3 linked regions of the Homo sapiens genome follow. Changing the gene in region 2 together with the main gene of any one other region gives a genetic interaction. Each region holds a gene or a part of one and is shown on either strand. Other genes may lie near its edges.

Region 1 (3,500 bases), on a different chromosome or scaffold from region 2:
TAAACATTTGGACCTTTCAAGAAAGGTAGCTTGGTGAAGTTTTTCACCTTCAAACTATGTCCCAGTCAGGGCTCTGCTACTAATTAGCTATAATCTTTGCACAAATTACATCACCTTTGAGTCTCAGTTGCCTCACCTGTAAAATGAAAGAACTGGATACTCTCTAAGGTCACTTCCAGCCCTGTCATTCTATAACTCTGTTATGCTGAGGAAGAAATTCACATTGTGTTAACTGTATGAGTCAAACTGAAAATGATTATTGAAGTGGGAAAAAGCCAATTGCTTCTCTTAGAAAGCTCAACTAAATTTGAGAAGAATAATCTTTTCAATTTTTTAAGAATTTAAATATTTTTAAGGGTTTGACCTATTTATTTAGAGATGGGGTCTCACTCTGTCACCCAGACTGGAGTACAGTGGCACAATCATAGCTCACTGCTGCCTCAAATTCATGGGCTCAAGTGATCCTCCTGCCTCTGCCTCCAGAGTAGCTGCGACTATGGGCATGTGCCACCACGCCTGGCTAACATTTGTATTGACCTATTTATTTATTGTGATTTATATCTTTTTTTTTTTTTGAGACAGAGTTTTGCTCTTGTTGCCCAGGCTGGAGTGCAATGGCACGATCTTCGCTCACCACAACCTCCGCCTCCTGGGTTCAAGCGATTCTCCTGCCTCAGCCTCCCAAGTAGCTGGGATTACAGGCATGAGCCACCACGCCCAGCTAATTTTGTATTTTTAGTAGAGACGGGGTTTCTCCATGTTGGTCAGGCTGGTCTCGACCTCCCGACCTCAGGTGATCTGCCCGCCTCGGCCTCCCAAAGTGCTGGGATTACAGGCATGAGCCACCGCGCCCAGCTGATTTATATCTTATCTATGAGAAACACCAAAAACTATGAGTAAGCATCACTGAGTTATCATGTAAGAATTTTTTCTAAGTTTTAGCCCAAATTTCCAGGTCAAGACAAACCCACAGAGAGGTAAAAGGGTATTAGGATGGGAGTTCATATTTACAGCAGGAACTTTACATACATGGTCTCCTTGAGCTCTTGCAACCTTGTAAGATAAGTATTATTTTCCTTTCACAGATGAATAAACTGCTACCCTTTTTTTAACAAGTAGATTTGACTAAAAAGAACTATGTCAAATATTGCTTCCCATTTTCTTATTTCTTTTTTTTTTTTTTTTGAGACAGAGTCTTGCTCTGTTGCCCAGGCTGGAGTGCAGTGGCGAGATCTCGGCTCACTGCAAGCTCTGCCTCCCGGGTTCACACCATTCTCCTGCCTCAGCCTCCCGAGTAGCTGGGACTACAGGCGCCCGCCACCACGCCCGGCTAATTTTCTGTTTTTTAGTAGAGACGGGGTTTCACCGTGTTAGCCAGGATGGTCTCGATCTCCTGACCTCGTGATCCACCTGCCTCAGCCTCCCAAAGTGCTGGGATTACAGGCGTGAGCCACTGAGCCCAGCCCCATTTTATTTCATTTCTCTAACAGCAATGATATATATACATCCCATAGTATATCCTACTGATATACTAGCCCCTTTCCCCATTCAACACCTGTGTAATCAGGAAATAAAACAATGATTCGGGTTTAAAGGGTATATCATGTGAAACTAATGCTGGGGCGGTAGTCTCCATTCATAGTTCAAAATACAAATTTTATCCACTAAAATGGAAACACAAAAAACAACTACTGAAATGTAAATAATATAACAACAAAAATAACAAAATATCATAATACACAGGGCCAAATCACATTATATACACTCACTACACCCACTCTACCCTACCTTAGCCCGTAATCAAAGGGACAGGGGAAAAAACCAAATGTAGCAGGAAAGGCAATATAAAGCTATTAATTAATTAACTGGAATTTAGTTTGTAAATGCTAAAACCAGTTCTCAAAAATTAAGACAATGCTTTTGATCAGCAGACTAAATTATTACAAATAAAGATAAGTACTTATTGCAAAACTACTTGAATCTTTGCATGACTAAAATGTAAAATAAGTGGTGACTTGAAATCCTAGAGTGAACTTTATACAGAAAAGGAATAGTCTACATGTAGACACTGAGAACTCTTGGGAGGGGGAAAAGATTTGGATATGGCTATAGTTTTGACTTTGCAAATGATCAATTTTTGCGGAATTAGATGGAAAAGATCCGGTGCTTTTTATAGTTCAAACACAGACAAATGCTGTTAAGTCTCCAAAAATTTGATTAGAAGTTGGAGTGCTGAGTGATTTTAAGAACCTGAAGCAACAGCATTTCTAAACAATTCTTAAAATAAACTTGTTAGCCACATCAGCGTTGTGCATTAAATTTCACAACTCATGGAGAGGAAGAAAAAAAGTCTTGCTTAACTCTAAACATACAAGTTTTAGAAGAATTTTAATGAAGTGCGGCTCCCAGAACAGGAAAAGCCTTATGTTAAAACAATTCAGTCCTTGAGTCCTTGGCTAACAACTAGATTGAACTACCTACCTGACTTGGAAGTGAAGTGTCCTGGAAAACATATTTTAAAAATTTTAACACTTTTCTCCCCTTGTAGAAAACTTTAAATTTAAAGTCTAGACTATACAGACCAAATTCAAGTTAATGACTATATAACCAAACTAAGTGGCAGACAGTGCAAAGGTGAAGAACTGAGGATTTACATACTAAAACAGAAACAGGGCAGTCATTATTTAATTTTTAAAACTCTCATTTAAATTTGCAATGTTTTAGCCGGGCGTGGTGGCTCAAGCCTGTAATCCCAGCACTTTGGGAGGGCAAGGCGAGTGGATCTCTTGAGGTCAGGAGTTTGATACCAGCCTGGCCAACATGGTGAAACCCCGTCTCTACTAAAAATAAAAAAAAATTAGTCGGGCATGGTGGCACCTGCCTGTAATTCCAGCTACTCAGGAAGCTGAGGCACGAGAATCGCTTGAACCCAGAAGGCGGAGGTTGCAGTGAGCAGAGATCACTCCACTGCACTCCAGCCTGGGTGACAAGCAAGACTCCATCTCAAAAAGAAAATTAAATAAATAAAATAAATTTGCAATGTTTTAAATGAATATCACTTAAAGTAGTAATCAACAGAAGTTAGGAGAACATAACAATACTCTTTCTCTTAGAAAGTACAACAAAAATATAATTTTTTACAGTTTTACTCTCAAACTTTCCTCTGTAGTAACATGCCTTACTCACCTCTACAATAGGTTTGTTGTGAGAATCTTGTAATGTAAACCCTGGACGTTCTATGAAGCATTTTTAAACTTCTAGTTTATACCCTACTGATTCTTATTCAAGTGTTTTTTAAAAAATATTTAAACAACTATTCTTCTTTTCTTGCCAATATTTTTATAATTTCCAAGAGGTTTTAAGGATCTTGAGAGAACATTTATTTCAGAAGTATCTACTACTATTACTAGCCAAGAAAACAAATGTAGGTAGAGGAAAGACTTAACATTTTGTCCTATATACATCTTAATCATCCTAACGGTAAAAACTCACATGAAACT
Region 2 (5,624 bases):
GGCGTCGGGCCAGTCGCGGGCCATGCCTGAGGCCAGCAGCAGCGGGGACACGGGCTTGTCGAACAGGAAGTGGTCATCGATGAGCTGCTGCTGCTCCTTCTCCGTCATGCTCTTCAGAGGGTAGTACTTCCCTTTGAACTCGCCCGTCAGGCTGTTGAGAGCTATGGGGACACACGAGGGAGTGGTCAGCAGCCTGTCCCACCTCAACCAGGGTGTGGAGGCCCAGGGTTTCCCCTGCTGCTGCTCCTAACGGGCCTGGGCCTTGGCCCCCTGGATGTCCTAAAGGCACCTGAACCCTGTGTCTAAACCCACACTTGTGACGGCTCCCCAAAATCTGTTCCTGCCATCTGTCCAGGCCCCCAGGAATGGCCACCCCATGTGCTCAATCTGGAAAACAGACCCACCTCTTCCCCTGAGGGACCCTCACATCCAATCCACCTGCAGGCCACAGTGTGCTGGTGCCTGCTCCTAATGGCTGGCAACACAGATGGCTGAAGTCTCAGGACTTTGAGAGGCCATTAGTAAAAATTATTATAAAGTAGAATGGTAGCCAGGTGCACTGGCACGAGCCTGTAGTCCAGATACTGGGGAGGCTGAGGCAGGAGGATCACTTAAGCCCAGGAGTTCGAGTCCAGTCTGGGTAACATAGCAAGACCCCCATCTTTTTTTTTTTTTTTTATGAGACGGAGTTTTGCTCTTGTTGCCCAGGCTGGAGCGCAATGGCGCGATCTTGGCTCACTGCCACCTCCGTCTCCCGGGTTCAAGCGAATCTCTTGCCTCAGCCTCTCAAGTACCTGGGATTACAGGCATGCGCCACCATGCCCGGCTAATTTTGTATTTTTAGTAGAGACGGGGTTTCTCCACTTGGGCGCCTGGCCCAAGACCCCAATCTTTAAAAAAAAAAAAATTGTAGGCTGGGCGCAGTGGCTCATGCCTATAATCCCAGCACTTTGGGAGGCCAAGGCAGGCAGATCACTTGAGGTCAGGATTTTGAGACCAGCCTGGCCAACATGGTGAAACCCCGTCTCCACTAAAAATACAAAAATTAGTCGGCCATGGTGGCACACGCCTGTAATCCCAGCTACTCAAGAGGCTGAGGCACGAGAAACACTTGAACCCAAGAGGTGGAGGTTGCAGTGAGCTGAGATTTTGCCACTGCACTCCAGCCTGGGTGACAGAGTGAGATTCTGTCTAAAAAAAAAAAAAAGAAAAAAAATTGTGTGTTTATTTGTATATTCATGTATAAAATATGTGTATAATGAATTTGTGTTTGTGCATATGTACAATAAATCTATAATATTTATATATCTTATACATATTCATATAATATACAGACATACCTCGTTTTATTGCATTTTGCAGATACTGTGTTTTTTACAAATTGGAGGTTTGTGGCAACTCTTTGTCCAGCAGGTCTATTGGAGCCATTTTTCCTACAGCATGTGCCACTTCGTGTCTCTGTGTCACATGTGGGTAATTCTCACAGTACTGCAGACTTTCTCATTATTACTATATCTGTCATGGCGATCCGTGATCAGTGATCTCTGATGTTACTGTTTTAATTTTGGGGGGTGCCACCGACCTTGCCCATATAAAAGGGTGAACTTAATGGATAAATGTGTGTGCTCGGACTGCCCCACTGACCAGCCATTCCCTCATCTCTCCCCATCTCCTTGAGCCTCCGTATTCCCTGAGACACATGATTTTGAAATCAGGCCAATTCAGTTCATAACCTTACAATGGCCTCGAGGTGTTCAAGTGAAAGGAAGAGTCAACATTTTTCACTTTAAATAAAAAGCTTCATAGGCCAGGTGCGGTGGCTCACGCCTGTAATCCTAGTGGTTTGGGAGGCTGAGGCAGGCAGATCACCTGAGATCAGGAGTTTGAGACCAGCCTGGCCAAGATGGCGAAACCCCGATTCTACTAAAAATACAAAAATTAGCCAGGCGTGGTGGCGCATGCCGGTGATCTCAGCTACTTGGGTGGCTGAGACACGAGAATTGCTTGAACCACGAGGTGGAGGTAACAGTAAGCCAAGATTGCACCACTGCACTCCAGCCTGGGCGACAAGAGTGTGGCTCCATCTCAAAAAAGAGATTCTTTTCAAACTATTACTGCTGGCCAGGCACTGTGGCTCACACCTGTAATGCCAGCACTTTGGGAGACCAACATGGGAGGATCACTTAAGCCCAGGAGTTGGAGGTTATGGTAAGTCATGATTGCACCACTGCATTCCAGCTGGGCAACAGAACAAGACCCTGTCTTGAAAAGAGAGAGAGAAAGAGAAGGAAGGAAGGAAGGGAGGAAGGGAGGGAGGAAAGAAGGAAGGAAGGAAGGACGGAGAAGAAAAGGGAAGGGAAGGGAAGGAAGGGAGGGAGGGAAGGAAGGGAAGGAAGGGAGGAAGAAAAGAAAGGAAAGGAAGGAAGGAAGGAAGGAAGGAATTGCCGCAGCCATCTCAACCTTGAACGACAACCGCCCTGATCAGTCAGCAGCCCATCAACATCAAGGCAAGGCCCTACACAACAGAAAGGTTCCAACTTGCTGAGTCCTCAAATGATCACAACATTTTTAGCAGGATTTTAAAATTAAGGTATGTACTTTTTTTTTTCTAGACATAATGCTATTGTGCACTTAACAGACTACAGTATAGGATAAACATAACTTTTTTTTTTGAGATGGAGTCACACTCTGTCCCCCAGGCTGGAGTGCAGTGGCGTGATCTCAGCTCACTGCAACCTCTGCCTCCCAGGTTCAAGCGATTCTCCTGCCTCAGTCTCCCAAGTCGCTGGGATTACAGGTGTGTGCCACCAGACCCAGCTGATTTTTGTATTTTTAGTAGAGATGGGGTTTTACCATGTTGGCCAGGCTGGTCTCAAACTCCTGACCTCAAATGATCCACCTGCCTCAGCTTCCCAAAATGCTGGGATTACGGTGTGAGCCACTGTGCCTGGCCTCTTTTTATTTGTTTTTGAGGCAGGTTCTCACTCTGTCACCCTGGCTGGAGTGCAGTGGCACAATCACGATTCACTGCAGCCTCAACCTCCCGGGCTCAAGTGATCCTCCCACCTCAGTCTCCTGAGTAGCTGGGATGACAGGTGTGTGCCACCACTCCTGGCTCATTTTTGTCTTTTTTGTAGAGACAGGGTCTTGCTGTATTGCCCAGTCTGGTCTTGAACTCCTGGGCTCAAGCGACCCTCCCTCCTAGGCCTCCCGCACTGCTGTGGGAGCCACTGTGCCCGGCCTCAACTCCTCCTATCTGAGGTGGCTCCCCTCGGTCATTCTCCACCACACCCATGTCTTGGCTTCATGGCACTTTTGAATTATCTTGTTCATCTGTGGGTTTCTGTATTTCCTCTTGTCTCCCCACCAGCTGAACACTCTGTGAGAACAGTGAGGGACCCCTATCTCCCCACACAGGGCAAGAACCCCTGGAAATGTGTGCTGGATGAACGGATGGCAGGACGCTGGGGGCAGCCAGGTGTCTGCGTAGGTCTTCTCAGGGGCCGTCGGGTCTGGACAGCATCCCTGAATCTCCAACACAGCAGGTAATGCTGACAGCCCGCGCCATTCCCCAAGCCCCCACGATTTACCAAGCTCTTCCCCTACTTTGAAAAGCGGGGGCCCAAAGAGACCCGAGGACCTGCCCATGGAGGAACAGAGCCAGGGCTGGGTGACCCCAGCAGTGGACGGGGTAGGGGCGCTCACCTTCCACAGAGAGCTTCTCCACCGCCCGGCGCTCGCCACGGGAGCAGTGTGGGGGCAACGTGTAGCCCTTGATGCTGCGGCCAGTGCGGACGCGGCTGCTGAGCACGTAGTTAGGGTCCAGGTCGTCTCCACCCTGGAGAGCGGGTGGGAGATCAGGACCAGGCAGATCCTCCGCCCTCTCCAGCAAGCCCAGGTCTCCCCCAGATGCTCCCCTCAGTCTCCCTGTTGCTTCCTTTGCCTTCTGCATCCTCACTGATTGGGTGTGTGGAGCCTCTCCCCGCCACCCATACCTGGGCTCTGTCTCTCCCTTCTCTGTCTCTCTCCCCTCTCCTATCTCTGTTTTTCTTTATACCTCTCTCTCCCCATCTTCGTATATTTCTTTTCCTTTTTTTTCTTCGAGACAGGGTCTCTCTCTGTCGCCCAGGCTGGAGTGCAGTGGTGCCATCATAGCTCACTGCAACCTCAAACTCCTGGGCTCAAGCAATTCCCCTGCCTCAGCCTCCCAAGTAGCTGGGACTAACAGGTAGGTATATGCCACCATGTTCGGCTAACTTAAAATAAATTTTTTATAAATAGAGACAGGGGCTGGGCGCGGTGGCTCACACCTGTAATCCCAACACTTTGGGAAGCCGAGGTGAGCCAATCACCTGAGGTCAGGAGTTCGAAACCAGCTTGGCCAACATGGTGAAACCCCATTTCTACTAAAAATACAAAAATTAGCTGGGCGTGGTGGTGCGCGCCTGTAATCCCAGCTACTCAGGAGGCTGAGGCACGAGAATCACTTGAACCTGGGGATCAGGGGTTTCCGTGAGCTGAGATCGAGCCACTGCACTCCAACCTGGGTGACAGAGTGAGATTCTGTCTCAAAAAAAAAAAAAAAATAGAGACAGGGTGTCACTATGTTGCCCAGGCTGGTCTCAAACTCCTGGGCTCAAACAGTCCTCCTGCCTCAGCCTCCCAACGTGATGGGATTACAGGCATGAGCCACCATGCCTAGCTAAATTTTTAGGCTTTTTTTTTTCTTTTTTTTGGGCAGAGACGGGTTCTTGCTATGTTGCCCAAGCTGGTCGTGAACTCTCCTGGCTTCACGTGATCCTCACACCTCAGCCTCCATAAGTGCTGGGATTACAGGTATAGCCACTGCACCCAGCCTTTCTGCCCATTTCTGTTTCTCTTCCTGTCTCCCTTTCTCCCACTCTCCTTGTCTGTGTCTGACTGCAACTGCGTGTGTCTCTCTCTCCCTGTCTCTCCTGCCTTCTCTGATGCTCCCTTCTGTCTCCCTCTGTGTCTCTGCCTCTCCCCCCACCCTTTTTTTTTTAGGCAGAGTCTCGCTCTGTCACCCAGGCTGAATAGCTAGGATTATAGGTGAACACCAGCATGCCTAGCTAATTTTTGTATTTTTAATAGAGACTGGGTTTCACCGTGTTGGTCAGGCTGGTCTCGAACTCCTGACCTTATGATCCGCCCACCTCAGCCTCCCAAAGTGTTGGGATTACAAGCGTGAGCCACTGTGCCCGGCTATGCCTCTTCCTTTTCTACATGCTTTTGTGCCTTTCTTCTCCCTCTCCCTCTCCTTTGTCTGTCTGTCTCCTTGGTTGTCTGTGTCTCCTTGGCTGTCTCTGTGTCTCTCTGTCCCTCTCTCTTTCCTTTTTTTATTTTCTGAGATAGAATCTTGCTCTGTCACCCAGGCTGGAGTGCAGTGGCATGATCTCAGCTCACTGCAGCCTCCATCTCCTGGGTTCAAGAGATTTTCCTGCCTCCACCTCCTGAGTAGCTGGGATTACAGGCACGCGCCACCATGCCCAGCTAATTTATTTTATTTATTTATTTATTTATTTTTTGAGACGAGTTTCGCCCTTGTTGCCCAGGCTGGAGTGCAATGGCACGATCTCTGCTCACCACAACCTCTGCCTTCCAGG
Region 3 (3,500 bases), on a different chromosome or scaffold from region 2:
AAACACCATATGTCTTATTATTATTTTACCGTCCTACAATAAGAAATTGAGGCTTGGCAAATTTCAGTGGTAGAATGGGGATTTGAACCAGAGGTCTGCAGGACTTCAGAACTCATGTTCTTGGCCACTTTTGCCAGTGATTGTCAAAGTTCATTCACTCACATACTGTCTTCCTGAGTTTACCATGGCTGAGTCCCACTTACTCTATTAATATTTTTCTTTAAAGCAATGATTCACTTAAAGAAAAGAACCTAAAGACATCATTTTTTTGAGAGGAAATTATGTATTACTACCATATTTGGAAAGCCAACTCACTTGTTAGGAATAGGAGGTAGTCATAAATATGCGTTTGTACTTGCACCGAAACCCCAACTTCAGAATAATGATTATGTGGAGTGTGTGTATGTTGCAGGGACCTGGAATAAAAATGGAGGAAGTAGGTAGATGATACAGTGTTGGTGATGTTCTGGTTTTTGGATTGGGTGATGGGTTCATAGGTGCTGATTTTATTTTTAGACTTTATAACCTACATACACAATACATTTTTTCTAAAATGATAAAGAAAATTAAACACATAACCATTAACATAATGATTACTTAGGGAATATTTTACTGCACTATGCTGACTATAGATTTAGCTTGGTGCCTTGTTTGCAGTGGGCACACAGTAACTACTGGCTGATCGATAAGACCCCAGGAAATAATTGTAAAGCAAGCTCATTGTTTGTTATATTTGAATAAGGTTGAGGTATGTCCCCCTCCTCCCCTATTTTCTCCTGCTTCTACTCTCCTTTCCAATATTGCAACTAAATAGTGTGGGCTGCAGTGAGGTTTCACCTGGCTGTAGTTATGGGAGACACAGGCTGGGCTGAAGCTAGCACTTTTCAGCATCACCTTGTCTTATATATCTAGCACTTGGGATGGGGCAAAGAATACTGTCATGAAGTGTTAAGACACCTTCCTTTTTACCCAGTAGTAAGGTGTGACCATTCAGAGCTGGAAGCAGTATTTAAGTTAAAGCAGGGCCTGGATGAAATGTTAACAACATTAAACTGGTGAGGCTGGGAAATAAAGCCATCAGAAATTTTAATTGGAATCCGCAGAATCTCCTGTTTTATTTTCCCAAGCAAGCACCGGGCACTGTGGCTTTATTCCTGGAAATGAGGATTTGGAATTGGGTTTCCTGGTACAAAATACCTTCTTTGATCTTTTGGAGTGAAAACTTTGTGTTTCTTTCTGTGGCCAATTCCAGCTCTCAGAAGAACCAAATGGAAGATTTACCTCCTCATTTTTAGCAGTTGGCCATAGAATGCTCTTGCTTGCCATGTTAAGTTTAAGAATCAGAAGTTCTAAACTAGGGTTTGTCTGTTGGAAGGACATTCAAATGAAAGACTCCTTTTGAAAGAGCCTCATCAGTTTGGTGTGGTTGGCACATCACAGCCTTTGGTTCAGATGGGAGGTAGTTTTGCTTGAACTCACACTCTCAAAATTAACTAATAAGATATTCGGCAGCTTCCTTTTCTGAGTTAACACAAATACACCCTCTGCCCCTAATATTCAAACTAACCACACATTCGAATACTATTCCTGTGCGCTTCTAGGCAGTTCTGGAAATGTGAGATTGTTTATATGTATAAAGGCTCTTATGTGATCCATCAGAGCTTTGTTTTCCAGAGCCACGGCTATTCAGTTGTTTGATTTTTGGGTTTCACTCTCTGACCAACATTCCACTTTGCCCATTAGAGTTACTTCATTGTTGACTCTGGGTATTTGGCCTTTATTTCTGTGACTGGGAAAGTAACTTTAAATTTCAGTCTTCCTAAATTTTGTGGAGGTTTGTGCAGTAGGTGAAAGTTGTTTTGAAGAGGGGGATGGGGTGAGACCACTTTTAGCATAAGTGTCCTGAGGGATCACCCAAGGTCAGTTCTCATTCATCTTGAGGCCAAACCCTGGCTGTTCTGGTCTCTGCATTGCCCCTCACTCCCCTCCTTTTTGGGGGACCCAGATTCTTCAAGGCTCAGAGTAATCTTACTGCAAGCAAGAATGCTTTCTGGATTTTGCCATTTTGCCTTTCGACAGTCTCCTAGGTTTTATCATCCCCATTTCTTATTCTGGGATGTGATTGATCTCTTTGAGGGCAAGGACTTCAAGTTGTTCATTCCTCCATTGATTCTTTCTACACAAGTCATTGCTCTTCACCAACTTAAAACCTTTCAAATTCTCTCCCTGGGCTCCTTGAGGCAAGGGACTGTCTTATTCATCTTTTGTGTAACTTTTGCACCTAACACAATGCCTGGCCTAGACCACACAGTCAATAAATTGTTTTTGAATTGCCGAGAGAATGAATGGATGATTGCATATTAAGGGAGCAAAGGGACCTAGTCTTCTAGGGAACCAGGGAGATTGCTGACAAGATGATACCAGTCACTGTGGTCCGTAAGGATGAGTTTGGAAAGTGGGGACGAAAGACATTCTATGTAGAAGGAACTGCTTTTGATACCTCTTCTCAGTGCTTAATGTTGTAACCTGTGCTTAGTCAATTCCACAAACATTTATTGTGTTCTTTTCAGCATATGTTTCTTTCTTTCTTTTTATATTTAAGAGTGATGCTTCCATTTTTGAGAAGAATATCTCACTAATTTTTTATATCCCACAGAGCAGGGAATCCTTCATTATTTATAGTTAGGACCCAGACACTCAGTGAATCAATTACTTTACTCTTGACTTTTTCCTGTTGCATATGTTTCCAAACAGTTGACAGTGAAAACGTAGTGGTGGGCCATGCTTATGTGAGAGGTGGAAAAATGTAGGTGACCTCTTTGGAAAATGGGTGGAATCCAAAGTAAACTCCTCTTTTGAGAGATTTTTAAGGGCTGAAATCAGTGGACATACCACATATAACTTTTCATCTTGAATACTTGATGGGTGTGTGCTTTTGCTCATCTATGAAAGCCAAGATTGGCTATTAATATCACCATGCCATCGAAAAGCAAGATTACTTTGATTTGGGGGATTCCGTTTTAGCCAGTTCTGGAAGAATATTGATAGGCCCTCCAAAATATAACCTTGAACTTTAGAAATGTACAGAGGGGAGAACGAAGGTGGGGTGATCTTGGGCAAAGTTGGATATTAGAAATGGGACGATACTTGAGAGTTTGGAACGTGGGTACTGAGGAAAATGTGCAATAAGAAGAACTTGAGAAAAAGCATTCTGGAATAGAAGGGATGGGTTGAGTGATGTTTTAAACCAAGTTCCGAAACTTCCACTATTGCAGCTATTGATGAGTGTTGGCTACGCTTGGGGTGAAAGTAAGATGTGCTTGATTTACTCTCTGTAAGTAGTGAGTTAATGCATATAAGCAAACATGACCATAAAGGCAGGAGCTTAGGGATGAATATCCCTTGTCTTGATGTCAGGGACTTACACAAGATAGAAATATGCATAGGAGTGAAAGTGTAGGTGGTTATCTAGAGTGACACCTTCCTTTTCAGGAGTAAGG

Evidence for each region. Genes that interact genetically often act in the same process or in processes that back each other up.
Region 1: changes in CKM (region 2) and XIAP together harm fitness more than expected from each alone (negative genetic interaction), as found in Homo sapiens cells (one large-scale study listed by BioGRID).
Region 3: changes in CKM (region 2) and ACVR1 together harm fitness less than expected from each alone (positive genetic interaction), as found in Homo sapiens cells (one large-scale study listed by BioGRID).

The regions. Positions count from the first base shown.
Region 1 is NC_000023.11:123,908,553-123,912,052, reverse strand, and holds part of XIAP (E3 ubiquitin-protein ligase XIAP), read right to left. Parts: 3' UTR 1-3,500.
Region 2 is NC_000019.10:45,311,760-45,317,383, forward strand, and holds part of CKM (creatine kinase M-type), read right to left. Parts: intron 3,839-5,624; coding exon 3,706-3,838; intron 162-3,705; coding exon 1-161. UniProt on the Homo sapiens protein: Reversibly catalyzes the transfer of phosphate between ATP and various phosphogens (e.g. creatine phosphate).
Region 3 is NC_000002.12:157,869,831-157,873,330, reverse strand, and holds part of ACVR1 (activin receptor type-1 precursor), read left to right. Parts: intron 1-3,500. UniProt on the Homo sapiens protein: Bone morphogenetic protein (BMP) type I receptor that is involved in a wide variety of biological processes, including bone, heart, cartilage, nervous, and reproductive system development and regulation.